Linked DNA regions of Homo sapiens. The protein of the gene in region 1 binds, or shares a complex with, the protein of each later gene. Links are inferred from orthologs where the notes say so. Each region holds a gene or a part of one and is shown in the gene's direction. Other genes may lie near its edges.

What was found.
Region 2: the proteins of NPR1 (region 1) and NPPA are in contact, whole or in part, in a crystal structure (PDB 7BRG), measured with the Rattus norvegicus proteins. The link is inferred for Homo sapiens from one-to-one orthologs. Residues at the interface, in NP_036745.1 of Rattus norvegicus: Asp90, Val115, Tyr116, Ala119, Pro120, Arg123, Ala139, Leu140, Gly141, Ile142, Val144, Tyr148, Tyr182, Asp184, Leu186, Gly187, Asp188, Asp189, Arg190, Phe193, Phe194, Val196, Glu197, Tyr200, Met201, Arg204, His213, Gln214, Glu215, Phe216; in NP_036744.1 of Rattus norvegicus: Arg126, Ser127, Ser128, Cys129, Phe130, Gly131, Gly132, Arg133, Ile134, Asp135, Arg136, Ile137, Gly138, Ala139, Gln140, Ser141, Gly142, Leu143, Gly144, Cys145, Asn146, Ser147, Phe148, Arg149, Tyr150.

The regions. Positions count from the first base shown.
Region 1 is NC_000001.11:153,681,545-153,688,808, forward strand, and holds part of NPR1 (atrial natriuretic peptide receptor 1 precursor), read left to right. Parts: intron 1-159; coding exon 160-295; intron 296-953; coding exon 954-1,045; intron 1,046-1,831; coding exon 1,832-1,967; intron 1,968-2,195; coding exon 2,196-2,280; intron 2,281-3,419; coding exon 3,420-3,540; intron 3,541-4,261; coding exon 4,262-4,336; intron 4,337-4,578; coding exon 4,579-4,656; intron 4,657-5,101; coding exon 5,102-5,206; intron 5,207-5,471; coding exon 5,472-5,543; intron 5,544-5,655; coding exon 5,656-5,812; intron 5,813-6,045; coding exon of another isoform or gene 6,046-6,068; exon of another isoform or gene 6,069-6,089; coding exon 6,090-6,245; intron 6,246-6,508; coding exon 6,509-6,677; intron 6,678-7,264. UniProt on the Homo sapiens protein: Receptor for the atrial natriuretic peptide NPPA/ANP and the brain natriuretic peptide NPPB/BNP which are potent vasoactive hormones playing a key role in cardiovascular homeostasis.
Region 2 is NC_000001.11:11,845,120-11,852,899, reverse strand, and holds NPPA (natriuretic peptides A preproprotein), read left to right. Parts: upstream 1-5,116; 5' UTR 5,117-5,215; coding exon 5,216-5,338; exon of another isoform or gene 5,339-5,460; coding exon 5,461-5,787; intron 5,788-6,885; coding exon 6,886-6,891; 3' UTR 6,892-7,191; downstream 7,192-7,780.

The DNA.
Region 1 (7,264 bases):
AAAGGCATCGTTTAAATAGTAAAATCTCCCTGTGATATAGGGGTGTTATTTTCTCCCATCCTCTTCCAAAATCCCAGTGCCTCTTGTTCCCTTCCCCACAGCTCCCACCTCCATGCCCTTCATATGCCCACCCCAGCCGACCTCTGTTTGCCCCTACAGGTGAACACCATCCCAGCATCCTTCCACGACGGGCTCCTGCTCTATATCCAGGCAGTGACGGAGACTCTGGCACATGGGGGAACTGTTACTGATGGGGAGAACATCACTCAGCGGATGTGGAACCGAAGCTTTCAAGGTCAGGGCCTGGAGGTGGCTGGAATGGGCTGCCTTGGGGGATGAATCCCAGGTGCCCAGTGTCAAGCCATGAGAAGCCTATTGTCCTGCAGCAGTTACCTATGCACACCAGCCTTTTCCTCCACAGCTTTTTTCAGGCCCATCCCTCAGAAGTCCTACAAAGTGTCCAATCTCAATCATCCCTGCTGGGCACTGAGTTCTTTTACCTTTCTTTTTCTTTTTTCTTTTTTTTTTGAGATGGAGTCTCGCTCTGTCCCCAAGACTGGAGTGTGGTGGTGCAATCTCGGCTCACTTCAACCTCCGCCTCCCAGGTTCAAGCAATTCTCCTGCCTCAGCCTCCTGAGTAGCTGGGATTACAGGTGCCCTCCACCAACACTTGGCTAATTTTTTGTATTTTTTTTAGTAGAGACAGGGTTTCACCACGTTGGTCAGGCTGGTCTTGAACTCCTGACGTCAGGTGATCTGCCCGCCTCAGCCTCCCAAAGTGCTGGGATTACAAGCATGAGCCACAGTGCCCGGCCGTTTTACCATTTACTATCATTCTGTATACATGTATGTTTGGAAGGCAAGGCAAAAAAGATTAGAGGATGAAGAGATGAAGTGGGGCACCCCTGAACTTCTATTCTCTCAAACATAGTCATCTTCCCCCATGTCCTCAGGTGTGACAGGATACCTGAAAATTGATAGCAGTGGCGATCGGGAAACAGACTTCTCCCTCTGGGATATGGATCCCGAGAATGGTGCCTTCAGGGTAAGTTTGTGCACCCAGAAGACAGTGCCAATTCCAAATGACATCTCACCCTCCTACTTCCCCCCCACAGCCCTGCCAGGGCACCTGTTTATCCTGTAGCCATTCCACCATGCCTGGACACTTACAAGAGCCCTGGATAAAACAGACCCAGCTCCAGTCTGGGGAAGCCACCAGAATGATAGGGACTCACAGGCATCACACTTGGGGAGCCCCATGCCTGAGGAGGGAGCACAAGCCTGCCCTCGGGGAGCTCCGAAGGGAGGCAGGCAGGACCGCCTCCCAGCAGAGACAGGGCTGTGAAAGATGCACATTACACAGCTCTGCAAGCGAGCAGGGACAGGAAGGCGCTGAGGCCAATGGCCACAAGGGACAGGTCATCCAGAGAAGGCCTCCTGGAAGACGGGCACATGGACTGGGCCTGCGAATGTAGGCTAAGGTGAACATTACCTTCTCCTGTTTTCTACCAAGAAAATAAGTAGAGAAAAATCAATGCTTGGTTGGTACTTCAACCAAGATTATAAACTCCCTGAGTGTAGAGATCGGGTTCTAAATGGAGTTTTCTTTATAAACCCCTTGATAGTTTTCAGGTGTTTCCACTTGAGTACTATGTGTGTGGTATGAGGTCCTGTGTCCAGTTGCAGTGGGGACTTGGTAAGCAGGTGACAACCCAGATATATATGTAGGCTCTAGAAGCAGAGCTGGGGTAGGTGGGAGGTGAGACTGCTGCACTCACAGCATGCCTTCCCCGCAGGCCCTGGCCTAGCCACCACTCCTGCTCTCCCTTAGGTTGTACTGAACTACAATGGGACTTCCCAAGAGCTGGTGGCTGTGTCGGGGCGCAAACTGAACTGGCCCCTGGGGTACCCTCCTCCTGACATCCCCAAATGTGGCTTTGACAACGAAGACCCAGCATGCAACCAAGGTGACTGCCCCTTGCCTTCCAGGCCTCCATCCCAGAGATGCTGCATCCTTCCCCTAAGCACAGTCGAGTAGGTGCTCCTGTCCCATGCTGAGGGCTTTCTGGAGAATGACTCCTGCCTTTTTCTTCCCTTCATCCATCATCCCAGTTCACTGATGGACTATTAGAAAGTTCTTCCTCCTGCTGTCTAACCCAAATCTCTCTTGCTGCAATATGGACTCTCTCCTGCAGATCACCTTTCCACCCTGGAGGTGCTGGCTTTGGTGGGCAGCCTCTCCTTGCTCGGCATTCTGATTGTCTCCTTCTTCATATACAGGTGAGCTGTGATGTGGGGGGTTGAGTGAGGCTGGGGGACCCGGAGAACCAATAGCAGAGGAGGCGGTGGGGACCCAGAGGGAAGAGGGCAGGGGTGAAGGGGCACCAGGGGAAAACCAAGGGAGATGAGGAAGAAAGGAGGCTTAAAAGCCAGAGGAGAAAGAAAGAGAAGGGAATGGCAGGGCGAGGGGAGGAGACAAGGATAGGAATGGCCAAGGAGAGTCAGAAAGATCCAAGAAGCAGAGAAGTTGATGGGTGACATCATAGGGGCGTGGACTGGTTTTCCTTGCTACTCTTGCAGGCCAGATAGGAAGCAACTTTCTGAACCTTTGCAATCATGCCCATGTTAGCTGAGGAGGGTGAGCCCTGGTGTGTGCCAGGTGCCCAACCTAGAATGGAGAAGGGAGCTGAATGAGCCTTGTTCCTGCCGTCCAGTGGAGGCTAAAATGAAGTACAGGAGGAGTTAATGATATACAAAAGCAAGGAGGGAGGGGAGAAAAATCACTGCTGGTTGAGCATATAATGTGTGCCAGGCACTTCCACGTACACTATTTCTTTCTTTCTTTTTTTTTTTTTTTTTTTTTTTTGAGACGGAGTCTCGCTCTGTTGCCAGACTGGAGTGCAGTGGCATGATCTAGGCTCACTGCAACCTCCGCCTCCCAGTTTCAAGCAATTCTCCTGCCTCAGCCTCCCATGTAGCTGGGACTACAGGCACATGCCACCACGCTCAGCTAATTTTTGTATTTTTAGTAGAGACAGGGTTTCACCATGTTGGCCAGGATGGTCTCGATCTCTTGACCTCATGATCCACCCACCTTGGCCTCCCAAAGTGCTGGGATTACAGGCATGAGCCACTGTGCCTGGCCTCATGTTCACTATTTCTTTTCATTCTTATAATAGTTAAGAATGAAATAGATATTGCGGCCTCATTCCCAAGTAAGGACATTGAGGTGATTCCCCCAAGGTCCCCAGTAAGGCAGAATTTCCCCCAGCCATCCTGATTCTCAGTCCAGAGGATAGAATTCCCCCTCCATCTCTGAGTGCATGGTGTGGTCCCACGGCTCTGAGGAGGGGCTGCTGAGCACCCTGCCCTGGGTCAGCGGCTCAGCCACAGGCTCAGATGCAGCCTTCGTATCCCAGGAAGATGCAGCTGGAGAAGGAACTGGCCTCGGAGCTGTGGCGGGTGCGCTGGGAGGACGTTGAGCCCAGTAGCCTTGAGAGGCACCTGCGGAGTGCAGGCAGCCGGCTGACCCTGAGCGGGGTAAGAACGCTGGTGTTTGTGTTGGGGGGCAATAAAGGAGAGGTGGGTACAAGGGGCAGTGCCTGAGGGATAGGTAAGGGAGCAGGATTCTAGTCCCAGCTCTGCTTTCACTTGCTGTGTGACCTTGAGCGACTCATAGTCCCTCTCCGAGACTGTCTCAGATGATGATTACAGCAGCAGAGCCTCCCTCACAGGGCTCTTTTAAAGGTCAGAGGAGATAGTACCTGTGAAAACACTTTAAAAAAAAAAAAAGTAAATGAGGAGGAAATTTTATGATGTGGAACATAAAGCAGGGTGGGCCAGGCACAGTGGCTCACATCTGCAATCCCAGCACTTTGGGAGACCGAGGCAGGAGGATTGCTTGTGCCTGGGAGTTCAAGACCAGCCTGGGCAACAGAGCAAGACATCGTCTCTACAAAGAATACAAAGATTAGCAGGGCATGGTGGCGCATACCTGTAGTCCCAGCTACTCTGGAGGCTGAGGTGAAAGGATCATCTGAGCCCAGGAGTCTGAGGCGGCAGTGACCTAGGATAGCACCACTGCACTCCAGCCTGGATGACACAATGATACTACATCTCAAAAAAAAACCCAACAACAAAAAGGAAGGGTGACACAAAGATAAGGCAGGATAAGGCAGGGAAATAAAGACCAGAGCACAAGCAATCAGGATGCAGACTGGGCCCACCGGCTGACCATTCCTCCTGCTCTCCCTCCTTTCAGAGAGGCTCCAATTACGGCTCCCTGCTAACCACAGAGGGCCAGTTCCAAGTCTTTGCCAAGACAGCATATTATAAGGTGGGCCTGGGGAAAGATCACTGGGCCTTGGGACTGGGGCAGGAGTGTACTCTGATGGAGGACTGGTGGGGGGTTCTGAGGGAAGGAGTAAGCTGGTGGGGAGCAGCAGATGGGGGCCCTGGGGGTGGGCTATTGGGAACAAGTGAGGGTCCTGAGGGCAGGGATGGGCTGTCGGGAGCAGCTGGAATTCCCAGGACATGGGACCATGCTCTTCACAGTGACAGTCTCCATTCCATGCCCAGGGCAACCTCGTGGCTGTGAAACGTGTGAACCGTAAACGCATTGAGCTGACACGAAAAGTCCTGTTTGAACTGAAGCATGTAATGTGGGGAGTGAGGCAGTGGCATGGAGAAGGGGCCCTCGGGGACGCAAGGGAGACTGGCCAACAGAACTAGTTATGGAGGGACCTCAGGGTACCCCAAGAAAGGGGCAGGGACTGGAGCCCTGGGATGGACCTTCATCTTGTGGGTGGGAGTGGGGGTATCCTAAGCTAGGAGAAGAGACCACTGGAGATAACCTGGAGGAATCTTGAGGGGCCATATGTGATGTCCCTGGGGGAGAGAGGGCTTAGGATGCAGAGGGAGTAGGAGCAGATTCTGGGGAGGGTGGGCTAAAGGACATGGGTGGGAATCACCAGGGAAGATCTTAGTGATGGTTGCAGAAAGTGAATAAGGAGTTAAGAAGAGTGAGGGTCCCTGAAGCTAGTGAGCAGCTTGGTGAGGAGCGAGGTCTCTGTCAAGCTCCTGATGCTGGTCCCACTTGCAGATGCGGGATGTGCAGAATGAACACCTGACCAGGTTTGTGGGAGCCTGCACCGACCCCCCCAATATCTGCATCCTCACAGAGTACTGTCCCCGTGGGAGCCTGCAGGTGAGGGGGACAAGGGGTGTCAAGAAACCTGGGTTCTAGCCCTGGCTCTGCCCCTGACTGGCCATAAGACCCCAGGCATGCCTCGCCCTCTTTCTGACCTTTCTGGCCCCATCTGTAAAAATGGGAGTTGGGGAAGGGCAGTGGCACTAGAGTCAATCCAAAGTTTTGTCCTGTTCTACCAGTTCACATCAGTAGGACCCTGCACCCTCCTCCAACTCCCAGGGGGATCTGCAGGGGATTGGTCTGACTCTTATTGCCCCAGCAGGACATTCTGGAGAATGAGAGCATCACCCTGGACTGGATGTTCCGGTACTCACTCACCAATGACATCGTCAAGGTATGCCCCTAAGCACCTATTGGATGTGTAGAGCAGGGGCCAGGCATGCTTCTCCTGGCCACGGGTGTAGGTCCCACTCCTGGCCAATACCTCTGCCCACTCACATTTCCAGGGCATGCTGTTTCTACACAATGGGGCTATCTGTTCCCATGGGAACCTCAAGTCATCCAACTGCGTGGTAGATGGGCGCTTTGTGCTCAAGATCACCGACTATGGGCTGGAGAGCTTCAGGGACCTGGACCCAGAGCAAGGACACACCGTTTATGCCAGTGAGCCTTGACTCTTGAACCTAACACCTGCCCCCAGCACCACCCAGTAGGGAGACTGATGCAAGGCCTCTGATGGGCTTGGGCATGCTTGTCCTGACTCCAGCCTCAATTCATTCACCCATGAAAAAGGGAAGGCCAGACGAAGTGGTTTCTAAGGCCTCCTCTAGCTCTAACACTCTGTGATGCATCCAGATCAGTTTCGGCCACACCCTTGTTTCCCCCTCACCCCTTAGCTTTGGGCTCCCTCACTCGGTGACTACCGACCTCTGACCCACAGAAAAGCTGTGGACGGCCCCTGAGCTCCTGCGAATGGCTTCACCCCCTGTGCGGGGCTCCCAGGCTGGTGACGTATACAGCTTTGGGATCATCCTTCAGGAGATTGCCCTGAGGAGTGGGGTCTTCCACGTGGAAGGTTTGGACCTGAGCCCCAAAGGTGAGAGGAGCACACCTTCCTTAAACCCAGCCACAGTCTCAACGAACCCCAGCCCCAGGGAGAGGGTCCCCTGGCAGCACCACCACACCTTCCTTCTGTAATGGGGTTCAGTCACCACCCTTTGACCCATTGCTGCCAGTGACCAGTCCCCCGCCCCCATGCCTTGGTCTTGGACTTCCCCTGCCATCTCAGCTGGTTGCCCCAGTCTCTCACTAGGCCCTTGGCCAGCCCCACCCCTCAGCTCCTCTACCCCCCCAATACAGAGATCATCGAGCGGGTGACTCGGGGTGAGCAGCCCCCCTTCCGGCCCTCCCTGGCCCTGCAGAGTCACCTGGAGGAGTTGGGGCTGCTCATGCAGCGGTGCTGGGCTGAGGACCCACAGGAGAGGCCACCATTCCAGCAGATCCGCCTGACGTTGCGCAAATTTAACAGGTCCCTGGTGTTTGTCATGGATCCCCCAGGCCCTTCCTCCACAGCCACCATTTACCTAATGCTTCTGGCTCTGGCTTATCCCAGCAGTGGCAGAGGGAGACCACTCACCTCCTCCCTGTACATAGTCAGCTCCAGCTCAGCACAGCCTCATGACCCTCTTCGCAAGTACAGCATGACTCAGCTGTCCCCACAGTCCCCTGCCATTCATGCCCCTTCCCTCCACCATCGACACCCCACACCCTTCCTGCCCACTCGCCTTGCTGGCCTCTAGACTTCTCAGCAGTGTGTAGGATAGATGGGCCTCCCGCCTCCTGCCCTGTAGGCTCTTGGCCCTCCACGGGAGCTCCTGCCCCACCCCTTGATTTCCCTTCCCCAGCGTGCCCACCAGGCCCAGTTCCTCCAGACACACCCTTCTGTGGACATCACTTTGTCCGCAATTGACCCTTGTCATTCTCCACCTCCTTTACCTCCTTCTAACTCACTGGGTTCAACAAAGATGAACAAAATGTCCATATGTCTGAAGCTTCATACTTGACCTTGGGGTCTCAGAAAAGAATTGAACTTTCTTCCTTCTGTTTTCCCCTGCT
Region 2 (7,780 bases), about 140 Mb from region 1:
CAGGAAGTGCTGGGGAATTGACATTGACCTGAGCAGTGCTCAACCAACATCTGACAGGAGCTGGCTTTTTTTTTTTTTTTTTTTTTAAATAGAGACAGAGTCTTGCTCTGTCACCAAGGCTGGAGTGCAGTGGCATGATCATAGCTCACTATAACCTCAAACTCTTGGGCTCAAGCGATCCTCCCACGTCAGCCTCCCAAGTAGCTGGGATTACAGGAGTATGCTGCCATGTCTGGCTAATTAAAATAATTTTTTTTTTCTGTAGAGATGGAGAGTCTCACTATGTTTGCAAGGCTGATTTTGAACTCACGGCCTCAAGCAATCCTCCTACCTTAGCCTCCCAAAGTGCTGGGATTACAGGTGTGAGCCACTGCACCTGGCCAGGAGTTGGCATTTAAAGACCCAGCTCACGCCTGGTGCAGCAGCTTACACTTGTAATCCCAGCACTTTGGGAGGCTGAGGTGGGAGGATAAATTGAGTTCAGATGTTCGAGACCGGCCTGGGCAACAAAGAGAGACCTCGTCTCTACTAAAAATAAAAGAAAAAAAATTAGCCGGGTATGGTGGTGAACATCTGTAGTCCAGCTACTCGGGAGGCTGAAATGGGAGGATCACTGAGCCGGGAAGTCAAGGCTGAAATTACCACTTCACTCCAGCCTGGGTGACAGAGCAAGACTCTGTTTCAAAAATAAAATAAAATAAAATAAAATAAAACAAACACCCAGCTCCCTTGAGTCATAGGTGGCATGTGTCTCTGTTCTCCAAACAGAGAACCTGTTTGGAGTTCTCTGTGGGAGGAGGATTAAGCACCTACTGCCAGAGGTGGTCACTGACTTCTACTTTTTCTGTATCACTTCCCCACTCTCCACTGACATTTCCTGGGTTTGTCTCCAAGATCAGCCACTAATACTGGAATATCTGTCTCCGGTTCAAGAGAACTTAAACTAAGACACTCCCAAATAAGTCAACCTTCCTGCAGAGCCCTGCCCTTCATGATTCTCCTGCCTCAGCCTCCCGAGTAGCTGGGACTACAGGTGCACACCACCATGCCTGGCTAATTTTTGTATTTTTAGTAGAGACGGGGTTTCACCATGTTGGTCAGGCTGGTCTCGAGCTCCTGACCTCAAGTGATCCACCCACCTCAGCCTCCCAAAGTGCTGGGATTACAGGCATGAGCCACTGCACTCAGCCAATGTCACCTTACATTTGCTTTCCTTCCTTCTCTATTTGTGTGGGCAGTGCTTTCAGAAGGCCCCCAGAGATCCCCAACCTCCTGGTCTTCATACCCTCTGTAACCCCCTCCCTTAGAGTGTGAGTGAGACCCAGAGACTCACTTCTAAGGGACACAGAACAGTACAACATGAAGAATGGGATGTCACTTCTGAGATTAGGTAACAAAGAGACTGTGGCTTCTTCCGTAACTTCTCTTTCTCGCCTGACCTAATAGAAGACAGTTGCGTCTCCATGGAGAGACCCACGTGGCAAGAAACTGATGTTTCCACCAGCCACCAGCCAGCGAGAACCTGTGGCTTCTGCCAACAGCTGCAGGAGTGAGCCTGAAAGCCTATCCTCCCCCAGCCAAGCCTTGAGATGACTGCAGCCGCAGCCAACGCCTTCATTGCCCAGGGGCCCCAGGCCAAGCAGGGCCAGATCCCTGATCCACAGAGCACAGAGGTGATGAGATAATAGATGTGCATTGTGTGAAGTTGCTAAGGTTTGGGGTGACTTGGTTTTTGTTTTGTTTTTTGTTTGTTTATTTATTAAAAACAGGGTTCCTTATGTTGCTCAGTCTTGTCTGGAACTCCTGAGCTCAAGAGATCTTCCTGCCTCAGCCTCCCAAAGGGCTAGTATTACAGGCGTGAGCCACCATGCCTGGCTTTTGTTCTTTTTGAGACAGGTTCTCACTCTGTCACCCAGGCTGGAGTGCAGTGGCTTGGTCATGGCTCACGGCAGCCTCAACTTCTTGGGCTGTGGTGATTCTCCCACCTCAGTGTCCAGGGTAGCTGGGATGACAGGCACGCACCACTGCACCCAGCTAATTTTTTGTATTTTTAGTACAAATGGGTTTTTGCCATGTTGCCCAGGGTGGTCTTGAACTCCTGGGTTCAAATGATCCTCCCAAAGTGTTGGAATGACAGGCGTGAGTCACCACGCCCAGTCTGGGGTGACTTGTTACCCGGCAGTAGTTAACTAAAACAGCCTCTCACTCCGCCTCACTCTTGCTTCCTTTGAATAGGAACCCCCACAAAACTTTAGCGAGTGACCTTTTGCCTTGGGCTTTGTTTTCTAGGGAAACTGTCCCCAGTCTTCAGCCCTTAGTGACCTCCATATTAAACCAAAGAAACAAAACATCATTTTCAAAGTCAGCAACGATCATCCCTAAGTATGAACCAATTTTTCCCAACTGGGGCTTCTGCTTTAGACCATCTGGGTCCCGCAGAATCATGCCACGAATGTGTTGGGGATTTCGTGCCAGCTCTGCACGCGGGTGACACTGCACACTCTGGGGCTCCCTGCAGCAGCCCAAGGCATACCCCCAGAGAATCGTGAAGCCAAACTCTGGGCTGGAATCTGGCAACACCCGGATTCTGGATTCTCCCACCCGTTTGCAGTGCTCCACCCGTTGTATGACTAAGATGACTTCTTTCCAGTGATAAGGAAATAAAAGGCTTTTGATTTTTCAGCCGTGGAAGAGGTGGGGATGGAGGTGGGCCTGGCTTTCTGTGCCTGTTACTTTTCTTCTCTCTCACTCCTACAGGCTGCTTCTAACCACCCCATGAAATATTAGATCCCCACCTACAGACAAACCCCAAGGCTTGCCAAAGAGGGTCCCTTTTATCTTATCTTAGAATAATATCACCCTGGATACCTCTTGTGACCTCTAGTCACTTGCTGCCCTGATTTCCAACCTTATGGCTGCACAACGTCCTGTTCACCTGGTCAGTCATGAGGTCAGCACACCTGGGGACAGATCTGGCCAGCCAGGACAGAGCTGGTCACTCAACACACATTTTCTGAGCTTCTAAGGAGTGGATTAAAACACATTCGGTGTAGAAATAGATCAGGAGAGCAGCCAACACACACAGACTTGGTAAGTGCACAAAAAAGCTACAGCCCCAGGGGCATGGGGAAGGTGAAGGAGCTCCCTTGGGGCATCTGAAAGATGGGGAATGGGGGTTTAATTGGGGAATGCAGCTAAGAGGTAAGGTGGCAGCTCTCTACGTGAAATAGGCTAGGATACAGACATCAGCGTCAGACCTGGGGATCCAGTCCTGGTTCCGCCACTTAGGCACCTAGTGGCCTTGGGCAAGTGGCATAGCCTCTCGGGCTCAGTTCTGTTCCCTTGTAAGCAAGGACAATGCTATCTACCACCTGGGGATGGTGATCAAAATAAAATCATTTCCATAAAGTTCTCAGCACAGTGCTAGGCATGCTACAAGCAACCAATAAAGACAACTATGATGGCCATCTTGCAGGGACTCAGCACTGCACACTTGTTATGTGTTGACACGTTCTCAGCTCACTTGGGCTCCACAACAATCCTGCAAGGTAGGCAGGGAAGATTTCTACTTTATTCATTCATTTATTTATTTATTTTTTGAGACCGAGTCCCACTCTGTTGCCCAGGCTAGAGTGCAGTGGTGCGATCTTGGTTCACTACAACCTCCGCCTCCCAAGGTCAAGCAATTCTTTTACCTCAGCCTCCCTAGTAGCGGGGATTACAGGCACATGCCACCACACCCAGCTAATTTTTATATTTTTAGTAGAGACAGAGTTTTGCCATGTTGGTAGGGCTGGTCTCAAACTCCTGGCCTCAGGTGATCCACCCACCTTAGCCTCCCAAAGTGCTGGGATTATACGTGTGAGCCACTGCACCCGGCCGGTTTTTAACATTCTTTCTCATTTTACACACAAGGAAAGTAAGGCTGCGAAGAGGTATGCAACTGGTTTGTTTTGGGCTACAGTACTGGTCTCTCAGCCCTTCAAATTTAGAGTTTTCCCCCAGTATACGTTGCATTGAATGGTAATGGCTAACACTGAGTTCAGTGCTTAGCAAACAGGCCATTCATTAAACATAGACAGACTTGCTGCCTGTTATTTCCCTTTTGGGGGCCAGGGAAATTGTGACCTTGGTGGCTCGGTCACTTGCCACTTGCCACGTCCTCAGGGAAGGATGTAGAAGGCATTGAGGGAAACTGACTATACCTCCTTCACCCCCACCTCCCTTCCTCCATCGGTCAAGTTGCCACGGGCACAAGCCCAGGAAGGGCAGGGGGATGTTAACAAACTTCAGACACGAAGAGTCTGAGCATCTATAAACAGCAACGGAAGAAATGAAATTGGCTGCGTCCTCTAAGCCTGTCCCCGCAGCATGCTGGAGGAGGGTCGCGGGGGACATGGAAGAGGAGGAGCTTTGGAGAGAGGATGCTTGTGCTCCCCCGCCTTTTCTTGCTATTTCTATTTGGGGGTTGGATTCCTGGGAGCTTCATCACATTTGGTTCTCAGCTGACTTTATATACTAAAAAATAACTTCCTTTCGCCTGACCATGGAGAGGGACTGCCAGGGGTGAAGGCAGCCCTGTCTGAGGCCAGAGGTCTGCCCACGTGGCGGATGAGGCAGGTGTGAGGCCAGCTTGAGCATCTGGATCCATTTGTCTCGGGCTGCTGGCTGCCTGCCATTTCCTCCTCTCCACCCTTATTTGGAGGCCCTGACAGCTGAGCCACAAACAAACCAGGGGAGCTGGGCACCAGCCAAGCGTCACCCTCTGTTTCCCCGCACGGGTACCAGCGTCGAGGAGAAAGAATCCTGAGGCACGGCGGTGAGATAACCAAGGACTCTTTTTTACTCTTCTCACACCTTTGAAGTGGGAGCCTCTTGAGTCAAATCAGTAAGAATGCGGCTCTTGCAGCTGAGGGTCTGGGGGGCTGTTGGGGCTGCCCAAGGCAGAGAGGGGCTGTGACAAGCCCTGCGGGATGATAACTTTAAAAGGGCATCTCCTGCTGGCTTCTCACTTGGCAGCTTTATCACTGCAAGTGACAGAATGGGGAGGGTTCTGTCTCTCCTGCGTGCTTGGAGAGCTGGGGGGCTATAAAAAGAGGCGGCACTGGGCAGCTGGGAGACAGGGACAGACGTAGGCCAAGAGAGGGGAACCAGAGAGGAACCAGAGGGGAGAGACAGAGCAGCAAGCAGTGGATTGCTCCTTGACGACGCCAGCATGAGCTCCTTCTCCACCACCACCGTGAGCTTCCTCCTTTTACTGGCATTCCAGCTCCTAGGTCAGACCAGAGCTAATCCCATGTACAATGCCGTGTCCAACGCAGACCTGATGGATTTCAAGGTAGGGCCAGGAAAGCGGGTGCAGTCTGGGGCCAGGGGGCTTTCTGATGCTGTGCTCACTCCTCTTGATTTCCTCCAAGTCAGTGAGGTTTATCCCTTTCCCTGTATTTTCCTTTTCTAAAGAATTTGCTGGACCATTTGGAAGAAAAGATGCCTTTAGAAGATGAGGTCGTGCCCCCACAAGTGCTCAGTGAGCCGAATGAAGAAGCGGGGGCTGCTCTCAGCCCCCTCCCTGAGGTGCCTCCCTGGACCGGGGAAGTCAGCCCAGCCCAGAGAGATGGAGGTGCCCTCGGGCGGGGCCCCTGGGACTCCTCTGATCGATCTGCCCTCCTAAAAAGCAAGCTGAGGGCGCTGCTCACTGCCCCTCGGAGCCTGCGGAGATCCAGCTGCTTCGGGGGCAGGATGGACAGGATTGGAGCCCAGAGCGGACTGGGCTGTAACAGCTTCCGGGTAAGAGGAACTGGGGATGGAAATGGGATGGGATGGACACTACTGGGAGACACCTTCAGCAGGAAAGGGACCAATGCAGAAGCTCATTCCCTCTCAAGTTTCTGCCCCAACACCCAGAGTGCCCCATGGGTGTCAGGACATGCCATCTATTGTCCTTAGCTAGTCTGCTGAGAAAATGCTTAAAAAAAAAAGGGGGGGGGGCTGGGCACAGTGGCTCACGCCTGTAATCCCAGCACTTTGGGAGGCCGAGGCAGGCGGATCATGAGGTCAAGAGATCAAGACTATCCTGGCCAACATGGTGAAACCCCAGCTCTACTAAAAATACAAAAATTAGCTGGGTGTGGTGGCGGGCACCTGTACTCTCAGCTACTTGGGAGGCTGAGGCAGGAGAATCACTTGAACCCAGGAGGCAGAGGTTGCAGTGAGCAGAGATCACGCCACTGCAGTCCAGCCTAGGTGATAGAGCGAGACTGTCTCAAAAAAAAAAAAAAAAGGCCAGGCACGGTGGCTCACGCCTGTAATCCCAGCGCTTTGGGAGGCCAAGGCGGGTGGATCACGAGGTCAGGAGATGGAGACCATCCTGGCTAACACGGTGAAACCCCGTCTCTACTAAAAATACAAAAAATTAGCCAGGCGTGGTGGCAGGCGCCTGTAAGTCCTAGCTACTCCGGAGGCTGAGGCAGGAGAATGGCGTGAACCCGGGAGGCGGAGCTTGCAGTGAGCAGAGATGGCACCACTGCACTCCAGCCTGGGCGACAGAGCAAGACTCCGTCTCAAAAAAAAAAAAAAAAAAAGCAACTGCCACTAGCACTGGGAAATTAAAATATTCATAGAGCCAAGTTATCTTTGCATGGCTGATTAGCAGTTCATATTCCTCCCCAGAATTGCAAGATCCTGAAGGGCTTAAGTGAAATTTACTCTGATGAGTAACTTGCTTATCAATTCATGAAGCTCAGAGGGTCATCAGGCTGGGGTGGGGGCCGGTGGGAAGCAGGTGGTCAGTAATCAAGTTCAGAGGATGGGCACACTCATACATGAAGCTGACTTTTCCAGGACAGCCAGGTCACCAAGCCAGATATGTCTGTGTTCTCTTTGCAGTACTGAAGATAACAGCCAGGGAGGACAAGCAGGGCTGGGCCTAGGGACAGACTGCAAGAGGCTCCTGTCCCCTGGGGTCTCTGCTGCATTTGTGTCATCTTGTTGCCATGGAGTTGTGATCATCCCATCTAAGCTGCAGCTTCCTGTCAACACTTCTCACATCTTATGCTAACTGTAGATAAAGTGGTTTGATGGTGACTTCCTCGCCTCTCCCACCCCATGCATTAAATTTTAAGGTAGAACCTCACCTGTTACTGAAAGTGGTTTGAAAGTGAATAAACTTCAGCACCATGGACAGAAGACAAATGCCTGCGTTGGTGTGCTTTCTTTCTTCTTGGGAAGAGAATTCAGGCCGATATTCCTTGTCGTTTTACTCTTTGTCAGAGGAAAGAATGCTGAGTTTTTCTTCTTCCTTTCATTTCACCCTCCTTTTTTGGTAGGTGGTTGGGGAGGCCTCAAATTCCACTCCTAGTGGGGTTTTTGTTGTTTTTAGGGGGGAACATTCAGAAAATGAGAGTATTAATTAGATTTTCTCTGGTACATTTCGAGAGAGTTAGGTTCTACAGCTAAGGTAATGGTACTTTTAGTTTTGAAAAGAGTAGGCAGAGTGTTGAATTTAAAAGCTGAGCAGGCCGGGTGTGGTGGCTCACTCCTGTAATCCCAGCATTTTGGGAGGCCAAGGTGGGCAAATCACTTGAGCCCAGGAGTTCAAGACCAGCCTGAGCAATAGAGTGAGACCCCATCTCTACAAAAAATTTAAAAATTAGCCAGGCATGATGATGTGCACCTGTAGTTCCAGCTATTCAGGAGGCCGAAGTGGGAGGATGGCTTGAGCCTGGGAGGTGGAGGCTGCAGTGAGCTGGTATTGTGCCACTGCATTCCAGCCTGGGTGACA